Homo sapiens: one gene and its partner. The protein of the gene in region 1 interacts with the protein of each later gene in a pairwise test. Each region holds a gene or a part of one and is shown in the gene's direction. Other genes may lie near its edges.

The links.
Region 2: the proteins of RUNX3 (region 1) and MEX3C interact in binary tests that used the Homo sapiens proteins (3 or more experiments, as listed by UniProt).

Annotation. Positions count from the first base shown.
Region 1 is NC_000001.11:24,899,000-24,906,276, reverse strand, and holds the end of RUNX3 (runt-related transcription factor 3), read left to right. Parts: intron 1-3,610; coding exon 3,611-4,155; 3' UTR 4,156-6,766; downstream 6,767-7,277. UniProt on the Homo sapiens protein: Forms the heterodimeric complex core-binding factor (CBF) with CBFB.
Region 2 is NC_000018.10:51,187,475-51,194,751, reverse strand, and holds part of MEX3C (RNA-binding E3 ubiquitin-protein ligase MEX3C), read left to right. Parts: intron 1-1,689; coding exon of another isoform or gene 1,690-1,745; exon of another isoform or gene 1,746-1,846; intron 1,847-7,277. UniProt on the Homo sapiens protein: E3 ubiquitin ligase responsible for the post-transcriptional regulation of common HLA-A allotypes. Binds to the 3' UTR of HLA-A2 mRNA, and regulates its levels by promoting mRNA decay.

The DNA of each region.
Region 1 (7,277 bases):
GACCAGGTCCACAGTCTCCACAGTACCTGCTCCCAAGAACTTTCTGTACTTCTGAGGGGACAGATAAAGGGGCCTGGAACAGGGCTGCCAACCGGTCTGCCTGCCCCACCCCCTTTTCCGGTGCCACGCTGAGGTGGGGGCCGACTGGGTCTCTCTACTGACATTGTTCCAGGCATAGTGCTGCAGCCAGGGGCTGGATGCAGGCCTTCAGTGTGAAGAGAGGACCCCTCCCCTTCTGGCCTGGGCTCAGGACTTTTGGCCTTGGTCCTGCTGAGACGCCAAGGTTGGGAGAAGCCCCAGGCCCAGCCTCTCTGAGCCCAGGAGCTAGTGCATTTGAGACTCTCAGCTCTCGAGCCCAGGAGTTGGAGGTCTGCTCTCAAGAGGTAGCGGAAGGAGCCCTGCACGCTGTGCTCACGCCCACCCCTGCCGCGTAGCTGCCTCTGCTTCTGCTACCCATGGGCCAGCATCTGTCGAGGTGCAGTAGCCTGAGAGCCAGCCTTTCTCTGCCATGGACAGAGCCAGGCCAGGGGATCGGGGCTCAGCGGGGGAGCCAGAATCCAGGAGGTGGGGTGAACAGTGGCTTCCTGTCCACCAGCCCCCATGGAAGGAGAGCCCACATCTGCCCATCCACTGCTGGGTGGGCACAGCTTGGGAATCAATGCCTGGCCCCACGGCAGGCACAGCTGCTGCTTCCATCCTGGGCTGGGAGGAAAGGAGCCCAGCCTGTGTGGGGCAGTGGCTGACTTCTGCTTCTCTGCCTGCTCCCTCCTGAGGCCTGGCCCAGTCCCTCGCTAGCCCCCCACAGCACTGGGCCACAGGCAGCCAGGCATCTCCATCCTCAGGCCCATCCCCTTTGGGTGAGAGAAAGGGCCTCGGATGACCAGGACAGGGCGAGCATGAACTCTGCAGTCAGCTGGACCAGGCTAGGAATTCAGGCTCTGCCAGGCATTGGCTGTATGATCTTAGACAAGTCACTTAAACTCAGCCTCAGTTTTCTCATCTGTGAAGTGGGGAGAAGGAGGTCCCTGACAAAGAGGGGTTGCTGGCAGACCTAGGCTTGGGAAGTCACTCTCACAGGCCCTCCTCCCTCTGCCCTCGGACTCCCTCCTGGGGATCCCCCTTGGGACACCCCACCACCACTTCCCTCGGTGCCTGTTAAGTGCTTTGACCCTCCAATATTGGTCACTGGCAAGCAGTGCAGAGACCCCAGCACCTCCCATACCCCAGCCCCAGCCCCCAGCCGCAGCCGCCCACAATGGGGGCTTCTCACAGCTGAAAGGGCTCATTCAGCCACCATGCAGCAGCCCGGACAATCTGGAGAAGAAAATAAACATTTCTTTCCACTGTTGGGATTGGCCACTCGACAGTGCCCCGGGCAGCTCGGGTTTCCTGGGGCTGCGAGGCCGCAGGGTGGGGGTACAGGAGCTCCAAGGAAGCTGCTGGGGGGTCTGAGGGAGTGCTGAGGGCAGGTACTTCCCCCACCACCCCGGAGGAGGGGTGGTGGCCCTGAGGAAAGAGGCTGGAGGGGATGGTGGCAGGTCCAGGGAGGCCCAGCCCAGCGCCCTGCAGCCCGCGTGAGCTCTGAGGGGCACAGTCCTGCCGTTGTATCCTGCGGTCCCCATTTGTTTCCTTCGTCTTGAGAATGGGGTTCCCATCAGGCGGCCAGCACCCACTTCCACCCCACCCATCTCAGCTGTGCTGACGTGCCCAGCACCTGCAACAGGACCTCTCCCCCCGAGGGGCTCCCCAGATGAAAACTGGCAGCCAGGTGCCTCGGAGGCTCTCGGCCTCAAGGGGCCGGGACAGCCAAGTGACCTACTAGGGAACATCCCAGATGTCCCAGAAGGCCCCCGCCACCCAGACTGCTGTCCCCACATCTTCTTACCTTAAGCCAGGAGCATCACTCCGTTCGGATCCACGCCCAGGGCCAGAGTACGCTGCTGAGGGAAACATACCCCAGCTGACTTGGGAAGACCCCAAAGCCCCGAGAAGTTCCAAGTCCCAGCCGAAGTCACACACACCTCAGGCTCATAGCTCTCCGTCCTCAGCCAAGCCTCGGCGTGGCAGGCAGAGCCCACTCCGGCTAGCACCGGCCCTTATCCTTTGGTGGGTGACACAGAGGGGTTGCTGGGCTGGACAGACTGCACCTCTGGACCACTGCTGGGGGCTCATCCACCTCCCCCGGCTGCCAGAGTAGAAGGGAGGCCCTGCACCAGGGCCTCAACTTGGCAGGGCCCTGAATGAGCCAGTTCTCCTGGGTACCCAGAGTAAGAGACACCACAGCCACAGTGGCCTTGCAAAGCCTCATGGACCCCTGCTCTGTGCCCAGTGCCATTCTAAGTACTCGATGTGAATTAACTGAATCCTGATGAACTGTTATCGTCTCATGTTTTATATGGGGAAACTGATGCGCAGAGAGGTTAAGTGACTTGCCCAAGGACACAAAGCTAGTAAGTGTCCAAACCAGGATAACTGTCCGGCTCCAGAAGCCACACAGTAAGCCTTGATCCTGTGCTGCCTCAAAGACGGGACAGCTCCCTCTCAAGTACGTGTTGGGGCTCAGGACCAGAGGCCCTAGGATTGTGTGCCAGGTCCAATGTGCTGTGTGACCCTGAGGGAAGTGCCTCACCCTGTCTGGGCCTCAGTTTCCCCATCAAGGGTGTTAGACTCAATCCCTGAGCCCCTTTGAATGCTGAGGTTTTGGGGGTCTGTGATGACAAAAGTTGGGGACAGAGGATGGAACACCCTTGCCTTGGAGCCCATTGAGAAGCCACATTCCTGGGGGAGCAGGGGCAGAGTCTGGGCTGGACACTGTGACCAGGTTGGGGTCTGGGTCCCCAAGTTTGTCTGACTGCTGTCTCACTTTGCTGCCAAGGCAGGTTAGGGTGGCATCCAGTCACTGTGTGGCCACGAGTCGGCTCCAGAGACACAGGCCCAGGGTGAGGTGGAGGCCAGAGCTCCTGTGAACTCAGTGCCCACAACCCAGGTGTGAGCGCACAGAACCTCCGCGTGCTGCACCTGGGCAGGAGAGGCACGTGTGTCCCCAGCAGAGGCCTTGTGATGAGAACCAGTCCTTTCTCTGCCACAGAGACTCAGTCTTGCTCTCTCTCTGCCTCCATTTTCTTGTCTTCAAAAGCGGGTTCCAACTCCCAGTCTCACACGGTCATTGGAGCCCTTTACACATCCACGGCCTTCCCAGCTGTTAACATGGGCCGGTGGGGAGAGGAACCTGCCTGGGCAGGGCTGCTGGGAGGCCTGAGCTGACTCTGCCCTCAGCCCCACCACCGCATCCTAGGCCTCTCCTCTGCGAGGCTGGGAAGGAGGATTTAAAAAGAAGAATAGACCCCCTCCTCTGTTCTGTTGCTGCTGTGGGGGGGCTCCCATGGCCCCTCTTGGCCCGGGGCACGCTCCAACCAGCTTCCCGGCAGGTCTGTGTTCGGAGTCCTGGCGGGGGAGGCCCCGGGCAGCCTAGGGCAGGAAGAGGAGAGCCAGGTCTAGAACTAGGGGTCCCCCAGATGGGCCTTGGGAACCAGAGCCCAAGGTCATTCTTCAGGAAGCCCTCCTGGGGTTGTCTCGAGCTGGAACTGACCTCTTCCCTGCTGTCCTCCAGGCACCTCGGAACTGAACCCATTCTCCGACCCCCGCCAGTTTGACCGCTCCTTCCCCACGCTGCCAACCCTCACGGAGAGCCGCTTCCCAGACCCCAGGATGCATTATCCCGGGGCCATGTCAGCTGCCTTCCCCTACAGCGCCACGCCCTCGGGCACGAGCATCAGCAGCCTCAGCGTGGCGGGCATGCCGGCCACCAGCCGCTTCCACCATACCTACCTCCCGCCACCCTACCCGGGGGCCCCGCAGAACCAGAGCGGGCCCTTCCAGGCCAACCCGTCCCCCTACCACCTCTACTACGGGACATCCTCTGGCTCCTACCAGTTCTCCATGGTGGCCGGCAGCAGCAGTGGGGGCGACCGCTCACCTACCCGCATGCTGGCCTCTTGCACCAGCAGCGCTGCCTCTGTCGCCGCCGGCAACCTCATGAACCCCAGCCTGGGCGGCCAGAGTGATGGCGTGGAGGCCGACGGCAGCCACAGCAACTCACCCACGGCCCTGAGCACGCCAGGCCGCATGGATGAGGCCGTGTGGCGGCCCTACTGACCGCCCTGGTGGACTCCTCCCGCTGGAGGCGGGGACCCTAACAACCTTCAAGACCAGTGATGGGCCGGCTCCGAGGCTCCGGGCGGGAATGGGACCTGCGCTCCAGGGTGGTCTCGGTCCCAGGGTGGTCCCAGCTGGTGGGAGCCTCTGGCTGCATCTGTGCAGCCACATCCTTGTACAGAGGCATAGGTTACCACCCCCACCCCGGCCCGGGATACTGCCCCCGGCCCAGATCCTGGCCGTCTCATCCCATACTTCTGTGGGGAATCAGCCTCCTGCCACCCCCCCGGAAGGACCTCACTGTCTCCAGCTATGCCCAGTGCTGCATGGGACCCATGTCTCCTGGGACAGAGGCCATCTCTCTTCCAGAGAGAGGCAGCATTGGCCCACAGGATAAGCCTCAGGCCCTGGGAAACCTCCCGACCCCTGCACCTTCGTTGGAGCCCCTGCATCCCCTGGGTCCAGCCCCCTCTGCATTTACACAGATTTGAGTCAGAACTGGAAAGTGTCCCCCACCCCCACCACCCTCGAGCGGGGTTCCCCTCATTGTACAGATGGGGCAGGACCCAGCACGCTGCTGGCAGAGATGGTTTGAGAACACATCCAAGCCAGTCCCCCCAGCCCAGCTTCCCCTCCGTTCCTAACTGTTGGCTTTCCCCCAGCCGCACGGGTCCCAGGCCCCAGAGAAGATGAGTCTATGGCATCAGGTTCTTAAACCCAGGAAAGCACCTACAGACCGGCTCCTCCATGCACTTTACCAGCTCAACGCATCCACTCTCTGTTCTCTTGGCAGGGCGGGGGAGGGGGGATAGGAGGTCCCCTTTCCCCTAGGTGGTCTCATAATTCCATTTGTGGAGAGAACAGGAGGGCCAGATAGATAGGTCCTAGCAGAAGGCATTGAGGTGAGGGATCATTTTGGGTCAGACATCAATGTCCCTGTCCCCCCTGGGTCCAGCCAAGCTGTGCCCCATCCCCCAAGCCTCCTGGGAGGATCCAGCCAAATCTTGCGACTCCTGGCACACACCTGTCTGTAACCTGTTTTGTGCTCTGAAAGCAAATAGTCCTGAGCAAAAAAAAAAAAAAAACAAAAAAACAAAAAAAAAACAAAACAGTTTTTAAAACTGATTTTAGAAAAAGAAGCTTAATCTAACGTTTTCAAACACAAGGTCTCTTACAGGTATAGTTCCGTGATTATGATAGCTCTGTGATTATAAGCAACATCCCCGCCCCCTCTCCCCCCCGCGGACCCCCAGCTGCCTCCTGAGGGTGTGGGGTTATTAGGGTCTCAATACTTTCTCAAGGGGCTACACTCCCCATCAGGCAGCATCCCACCAGCCTGCACCACAGGCTCCCCTGGGAGGACGAGGGAAACGCTGATGAGACGCTGGGCATCTCTCCTCTGTGGCTCTAGGACATCTGTCCAGGAGGCTGGGCGGAGGTGGGCAGGATGTGAGAGGTGGGGAGTACTGGCTGTGCGTGGCAGGACAGAAGCACTGTAAAGGGCTCTCCAGCCGCAGCTCAGCTGCACTGCGTTCCGAGGTGAAGTCTTGCCCCTGAATTTTGCAAAATGGGAAAGTGGGCGCTTGCCCAAGGGCCAGGCTGCATGGATTCTCACATCAGAGTTCTCTGGCCCTAGAAAGGCTTAGAAAAGGCGTAAGGGAACTCATAAAGGCTAGCAGCATGCGGTATTTTAACTTTCTGCCTCGGCCTCTGTGGATGCAGAAATCTGCCCTACAAAATGCTCTTCATTGGTTGTCTCTGTGAGAGCACTGTCCCCACCCAACCTGTCACAACGGCCAGAACCATACACCAGAGACACACTGGCAGGTTAGGCAGTCCTTCTGGTGATCCTATTCCATTCCCTCCTGCTGCGGTTTCTCTTGGCCTGTCCTCACTGGAAAAACAGTCTCCATCTCCTCAAAATAGTTGCTGACTCCCTGCACCCAAGGGGCCTCTCCATGCCTTCTTAGGAAGCAGCTATGAATCCATTGTCCTTGTAGTTTCTTCCCTCCTGTTCTCTGGTTATAGCTGGTCCCAGGTCAGCGTGGGAGGCACCTTTGGGTTCCCAGTGCCCAGCACTTTGTAGTCTCATCCCAGATTACTAACCCTTCCTGATCCTGGAGAGGCAGGGATAGTAAATAAATTGCTCTTCCTACCCCATCCCCCATCCCCTGACAAAAAGTGACGGCAGCCGTACTGAGTCTGTAAGGCCCAAAGTGGGTACAGACAGCCTGGGCTGGTAAAAGTAGGTCCTTATTTACAAGGCTGCGTTAAAGTTGTACTAGGCAAACACACTGATGTAGGAAGCACGAGGAAAGGAAGACGTTTTGATATAGTGTTACTGTGAGCCTGTCAGTAGTGGGTACCAATCTTTTGTGACATATTGTCATGCTGAGGTGTGACACCTGCTGCACTCATCTGATGTAAAACCATCCCAGAGCTGGCGAGAGGATGGAGCTGGGTGGAAACTGCTTTGCACTATCGTTTGCTTGGTGTTTGTTTTTAACGCACAACTTGCTTGTACAGTAAACTGTCTTCTGTACTATTTAACTGTAAAATGGAATTTTGACTGATTTGTTACAATAATATAACTCTGAGATGTGTGGAAGGAGTCCAGTGCCCGGTTTCTAGGGCTATGCATGGAGGTGGGGTGGGGTGGGGGAGAGGATGGAGACCTCCTGCTGTTGCCCAGGAGGAACAGGAACAGAGACACCCAGCACCTTCATCTCCTTGCTTCCAACTTCTTCAGGAATGGCCGCAGAGACCACCCTGGCCACAGGACAGCCGGTGAGGCCTGCTCCTGTATGGCTGGGACCCCAGGAGAGCATCAAATAGGTCTTCAAAGTGCCACAACCCTTCCACCAATCATGAGCGGGCTGTGAGTCTTCCCAGCCGTGTTGGGAGGAATTCCTATGCCTGTTCCTCAGATTCACATTTCGGGAGGGGGCAGAGGCAGAGGGAGAGTCCAAGTGCCTTGGTGAGAACCCCCCTCTGAGGCTCGTGTTTCAAGATCTGTGGCAAGCTAGCAGCAGTGGGGATTGGGAGTAAGCGGCAACTTCAGTGCCCCCATTTTGCAGATGAGACAACTGCGGTGCAAAGAAGGAGTGTCATCAAGGTCCATG
Region 2 (7,277 bases), on another chromosome or scaffold:
AATGCCATATGAAGATGCCACTTCTCAGGACAAGTTGCTTCCGTGTGCTTATGGTAACAGTCTAGGGTAACAAAGGAAGAAAACATTTACGTGCCAGTTTTACTGAAGGACAAGATAACATATTTTATAGATTTAGTTTAATACAAACTTTAGTCCTTCATTATAGTAGACACCCCTTAAAGCACTGCTAAATGGCCCTTACTTGTGTATGTTGTTAATCTTTATAGAAATCAGTTTTTTAAAAGTAAAGTGAATTCCAAGTTTTTATTTTGTACCAGCTATTACGTGATAGGAAATGAGATAAAGCCTTAGTTTTTCTTTTGAGGGCTGTGTTTATTTGGTTAATAAGGAAATGTTGAATTTAATTATGTCTTAGATCATGGAGACAAATTGCTGGCTCTTCCATTTAAACCTTGTATTTTCCCAGAGTTGACAATACTGTTAAAAGTATGTCATCATCCTCTATCTTAAAAGCAGAAAATCTGGTCCTTTTGCTGTTCTGAACCATACAACTTGTGGATCATTGACCCCTTTGCCACCCCCATGTCCCAGCAGCATAGTAATAAACCTGTAAAGTGTTTGCTCACTCGTATGGAGAACGAAGTGACTTCTAATGTTCACATTCTTTTACAGTATTATATTTCCCCACGGGAGAGAATCTGTCCTAAGTAAGTAAAACAGGGCAAATCATTTCATTTTCTTGTTTGCTTTGAAGGAGCTAAACTTTCATCCTTAAGATTAAATTATCCATTTCTGCCATTTTATGTATTACCTGAAGCCATAATTTTCTATTTGACATCTCTTAATTGATTTTGGAAATAATTATGTCACAGATGGAGACATTTATGACTTCAGCTCTGAAGCAAAGAGCAGGACAAATGGAATTCTGAGTCACATAGACTAGCAACTCATGTAGATGGCCTCTGAGTTCCAGTGTTTTTCTAAAACACAAACTACCGCTTTTGATACTGATGAAAGTTGGCAGAGTGTTTGACCTCGAATTTATACTCCCCAGTAGCATATGGTCATTTGTAAATGTTAAATTGGCCTTGTTTTTTAAAGCATTGCATCTGTTGTGAAACAACAATACTGTAAAATAAAGCCAGGAACTGAAGAGGCTTGTTGATATAATCAAAGAAGTTTTAGAATATGGACATCAAAAATAAACCTGACAACAGATTTTAAGACCTAATTTTATAAACTTAGAACGTCTCTGTTTTTAAGTATAGTACCTGCAAGACATATTAACAGTGATTAACAGGTCTAATTTTAGTCAGCAGGTTTTGTTCCAATTTGTACAGTCATTTATATCCATTTAGACTAAAAAGTGAATTAAAATAGAACTGTATACCCATTCTTAATACATTATAAATTAATACTAAATGTCATAAATTCAGTTGTTTAGAGACTTGTAACCCAAGATTTTGTATTACTATTAGGATAAATGTGTATCTTTCATTAGACTTTAATTAATGGTCTATGTGTGTTCTCTAGCCACATAGTCTAGAAAAGTCGTCTCTAGCTTCTTTTTATTGTACACCCTGTCCAAAAAAAATGTGCATACTCCCAATATCTGGATATTTATGTATGAATAGTAAGTGTGCTTAATATATTACACATTATAAAACAAAATTCTTTATTAACAATTAATACTTTACACTGTTTCAATTTGTCTTCCCAATTTCTTAGGGTGGAACCACCCTTCAAGCTCTAACACAACTGAAATAGGGTTTATACGTCTGTGACCAGGAGAAAAAGAGAAAGCTTGGTCTTGCTGTACATAAATTTTCTCTTCAAGGAGAAGTACATATTTCATGAGAATAAATAGTTTCAGAATGATGCTACAGCACAGTGTCTTTTTCTTTTATGGGGATGAGGGTGCATTGTTGGACTTCTCTTTGCTTAGTACTATGTTAGGTGCTTCACCAGTGCCGTTTAACCCTGCTAGGTGGTTACTGCCGTTTAGAGAGGTAGAAACAGAGGTTCTGAGAGCTAACTTGCTCAAATAGTTGAGATTGGATTTAGCATAGTTTGACATCAGAAATAAAATTCTTTGTACTCTACATTGCCACTTCAGTATTGAAGCATTCTGCTCTGGAAGGTTAGTATTTTGGATTAACTTGTGCCCTAATCGTAGGATACTGAATTTCTAATATGCATAATTTAAAATACCACTATCCAAATTAGTTTACTTGATAAAATTTTGGTGTCTGTACTACCCACAAGGCACAGTTTTAATTGTAATATAGTTCTAATGTGTCCAGCTAAAAATTTACTGTCATTTGTAGTACAGAAAGTTAATTTGCGTATATATATAGACACTAGCTTTAAAAATTAAATATTACAATTTTTCTAGGCTTTAAAATTTAAATTTCGTTAATAATGGTTTGTATTAGTTCTGGGACCCTTGAGAAGGGTTCAGTTACTGTAATTGTTTTTGCAAATGGGTGGGGAATCTACTGCCTTTCTTCCTGCCTTATTCAGCTAATGAACTATTCTGATTCACTAGGGAGGAAATGGGAAATGAAGTGGTAATTCAAGGGTGTATTTTGTACCCCTTGGTTACCAACAACCTGAAAATGATCCAGGGAACCAAGTATTTGTGTTAGTCTGTTAGAGATTTCTATCTAGAAAATTTTCAAACAATGTTTATAGGTTGGAATTCTAGGTGGTTCTTTACAGCGTAAGTTTTTAAGGAAAGGTAGCATTTAGTTATAAGGGAATGCTTAATATATTGCTGATTTGGTTTTGAATACTTTTGCCTTAAACATAAAAATGTTTTAGTATGTGTATTTTAATATCGTAGCTTATACAATATGTAAAAATACCTATTGTAGCTACACCAAACTGCCTGTGACAGTCTCTGTTCAGCTGTGGTATATTGGAAAGAACCAAATCAGAAATAGATATTCCTGTGCCAATAACTCACTGTGTAATCTTGAACAAGTCACTTAAACTCCCTAGGCTTCAGATTCCTCTTTTGCACCTGGGCATAATCATATCTACAATTCCTGTAGAGACTCTGGAAGATAAAGAAATCGACATATATGAAACTGTAAGTGCTAAGCACATTACTTTTGTTAAGGTAAATCTGAAATTAATTTGGAACCACCGTTTAATCATGTCCACCTTTTTTGGCTTTAGCAGATAGTTTGACTCATTATATTCTTCCAATGTAATAGAACTAGAACCAACGGATATCTGAATGCCTTTTAGATACTTGGCACTTCTGTCAAGATGGGCTTGTTATGCTGTGGTTAACAAAGAACTCTGACACCTCAGTGTTAAAACAACTATGGTTTATTTCTTGTTCATAGGGGCTCTGCTCATTTTAGTCATTCAGGGACACAGGCCAACAGCAGCCACCATCTCCAGTGTTACTGATCTTCTGTTGTGCCAGAAGATGAAAGACTACAGCATAGCACATACTGGTCTTAAAATGTTAGATCCGGAAGTAATGCTTATCACATCTGCTCATATTTCATTAAAGCAAATCATCTGGCCACACCTAACTTCAAAAGGCTGAGAAAGTATATGACAACTATGTGCCCACAAGGAGAGCCATGATGACTACTACAGTACTATTTTATAATTTATAGGATTGTTATAGAATTCTAAACAGTGTCATTCCTGCCATGTAGAATTTGTAACCAAACTCAAGATGAGAAAGTAGATAATGTTCATAAGATACTAAAGGAGTGTATTTGCACTTAAAAATAAAAAAAGCTTTTTAAGAAGCTCCAAGTAGATCATGGATAGTTATGTTTAAATCTCCATTGATATTCAGGTGATCCTTAAGTGATACCTTTTTTATTAAACTGCATTCTTAATGCTTCCCAAGTAGCTTATATGCCATAATTTGTGGATTTACTTTTAACATTTTCCCCATGCTACCATTAGTTACTATATAGAGACTTACAAAGATTAAATCTGATATTTAAGCCTTGAAAATAATTTTCTAATGTTAGGATTACCAAACCCAGATATACTAAATTGAATGTATGCATAGTCTAATACTGTTTGAGTAGTTCAAGTCTTTATTCTATAACTGACTTTGAGAATTTTAAGTTACACTAACTATAGGACCTCTTCCATGCCAGTGTTTGAGATGTAAGGACACTTCAAGTGTTTGTTGCCCTTGTCCGGTAAGTACGGACTACAATTCCTCATTGCATGCAGAGAAGCCTGGTTTGGTCACAAGTAAAGTCTATCATGGAATAATAAGACTAAGCCTTAAAATAATAAAAGAAAATCCTTTAATGAAAACTGCAGATGTAGTTGAAGGTAAGCATAAGTAATTTGGTCTTGAACATGATTGAAGGGGAAGTGGGGAGGGAATGGCTTCAAACAACTAGAAAAGATCTCCCAAAATGGTTACCAATGTAAAAGTATATATTTGCATTTGGGGCTGACCTTTTTATTATTATTTCCCTTCTCTGTGCCTCCCTTTCCCTTTGCCTTCTCTTCTGCCTTTCTACCAGTGCCATTTAGTATAATGCAGGAAAGGACATTGGACTTGGAGTTAGAAACCTTGTGTTTTGCACTTGCTGCCTGTGACCTTGGATAAATCACTTAACCTCTCTGAGCCTGTTTTCTCTTCTGGAAAAAACCTACTTCATCTACTTGTTCTTCCAGGTTTCTCTCTCCCCTCTCCCTCATTTGTTGTGAGGATCAAGTCTGAGAAGATAGCATTAGTAGAAATTGACAGTACAATTGAAAGTACAGAGATGATAAATTATATATCAGATAAGGTAAATTTTTACTGCTAAATTTCTTTTATACTCTGAACAAATGCTAGTTAAAGCCAAAAAATGTCATTTTAGTAAGTTTTTCGTAGGCTATACCAATAAATTATGTAAGTTATATTTTTTAAATTTATAATATGTCTTAAAATTTATTTAAAATCAGAGCTTTGGAAATGTATTTCCTGGCAAAGAACTAAGCAAGTCTGGAAGAGAATCATTTACAAATGAATCTAATTCCATTGTATGGTACCCAGACAGATAATTCTAAGGTTTCTGTTAACATTCTCCAAAGAGCATGAACATAATTTCAAGCTCCCCAGTTAGGAAAACTTCTGCCTTTCATCTCTAATTTACACCCTCTTCTGGTTTTTTCTTTCAGGTTTACTGAAAGGCCAAATAATAAAACTTTTCATTAAATATTTTTTATTGTCTTGTCTAAAATAAGTGAAAAAAGAGGGGTTTTAGATTTAATTTAACTTCTGTTTTTTAAAATACCTTGTACATGCAGGGAATTCTTCTCCACTCCTAAAAATACACTAGAAATATTCTTATTGGGATTTAGGAAAATAAGGCAGCTTGAGAGAACATTGGTTTAGGGGTCACTAGTTTATAACTGGACAATTTTAGGCTTCGGTTTTCCTCATGTCTAAAATGAGATTTAACTAGGTGGTCTGTCACATTTCTTATATTCTGATTTTTGTCCAAAGAGAGTCCCTAAAATGAGGTAAAAGTAAACCAGATTTCATATTACCAGTTAGATTGACTTTGCAAAATCTTCTCAATTTTGCAAAGTTTATGATATGTTTTATCTTTAGGAGTTTCTTTAAATGTTTTTAACTCCCTATAAAAATCAGTTCACTTGTCTTTTAATAACAACAAACTTGTGTCAGGCACTGTGCAAAAACTACATGTGTCATCTCATTTAATCCATTCTTAATTCCACCGAACAGATAAACAAGTCTATGGAGTTACAAACAACTTATCCAAGGTCTCAAGCCATTATTGTTTGAGACTTCAACGTGCCTATCTCAGTAAGTGGTAGAACAAGTAGACAAAAATCAGCAAGGATATTGTAGAAGATCTGACTACTGTCACCAACCAACAGTATAAGAAAAGAAAATAGGTCACTATGTGTACATGAACATGTATCACTAAATACTTTCAGTGCTTGAAGTTAATACAAGTCAGTGAAGGTAGAACTGAATCTTAGTCATCTTTGCATTATTAATATTGGTTAAAGTACCTAAAACAAAGTGGAATACTTCCTTTTTATTTTATTGAACTAAATTTTTTTCTTATAAACTTGCCATTTTATTGTTTATATCATTGTACTTTCCATATTGTTTTAATTGGGGTTTTCTTCCCTCTTGCCTTTATTCCCAGCATTTTTTTTAATTTTTTTTTTTTTTGAGACAGGGTCTCACTCTGTCGCCCAGGCTGGAGTGCAGTAGAGCAATCTCAGCTCATTGCAACCTCCGCCTCCCAGGCTCAAGTGATCCCCAGTAGCTGGGACGGTAAGTGCACACCACCACGCCTGGCTAGTTTTTTGTATTTTTGGTAGAGACGGGGTTTTACTATGTTGCCCAGGCTGGTCTTGAACTTCTGAGCTGAAGCTGAGCTCAAGCAGTCCACCCACCTCGGCCTCCCAAAGTGCTGGGATTACAGGCATAAGTCACCACAACTGGCCAAACAGCTTTTTATGTAAGGACCCAGTCAACCTCAAGTTGTTTGGCACTTTTGTTTGAAGTACAGTAGATGCTACTTGATTGAAGGCATTAAATGTTTATATGAATACTGATAATGAAACTAAAATCACATAAATGAAGGTGTTTGAAGTATTGTCATAGTAATCCCTAAAGTGAGACAAACAGTATTCTTGCCTTAAAATAGCTACAAGGAGGCCACTTGAACCCTAGAAAGGAAAGCTATTAGTTTTATATTATGCATTTAGGAATACATTGCATTCTTAAATTATTACTTAAAATGTTGAATTAATGTTGTGTACATGAAACATTCTTACTGGGATTTAGTTGATACTCATTAGTCTTTGAAGATAGAATACTAGAATTGATTAATAGAACTAATGGCAATTCCATATTTACTGTAACACCTTAATACAGTATTTTATGTGTTTCTATAAAATGAAAGGAGCTTTTGAATATTCTGTCTAGACTATTCCAAGGGGAAAGGGACCTTATTTTGTATAAAATTATTAATACAACCCCTTCATTCATTCTTATATATCATGAAACGTGAGATGATTTAGGGTTTTTGTTTGTTTTTGTTTTTGTTTTTTTTGAGACGGAGTTTCGCTCTTATTGCCCAGGCTGGAGTGCAGTAGTGTGATCTCTGCTGACCTCAACCTCCGCCTCCCGGGTTCGAGCGATTCTTCTGTCTCAGCCTCCCAAAATGATGTGTTTTTAGGGGAAAATAGTGTGATGAAAGGAGTGTGGACTTAAGACAACTTGGGCTAAGCACTTAATAACAGGCATTGTAGTAAGCATTTTTAATACATTATTTCATTTAATCTTT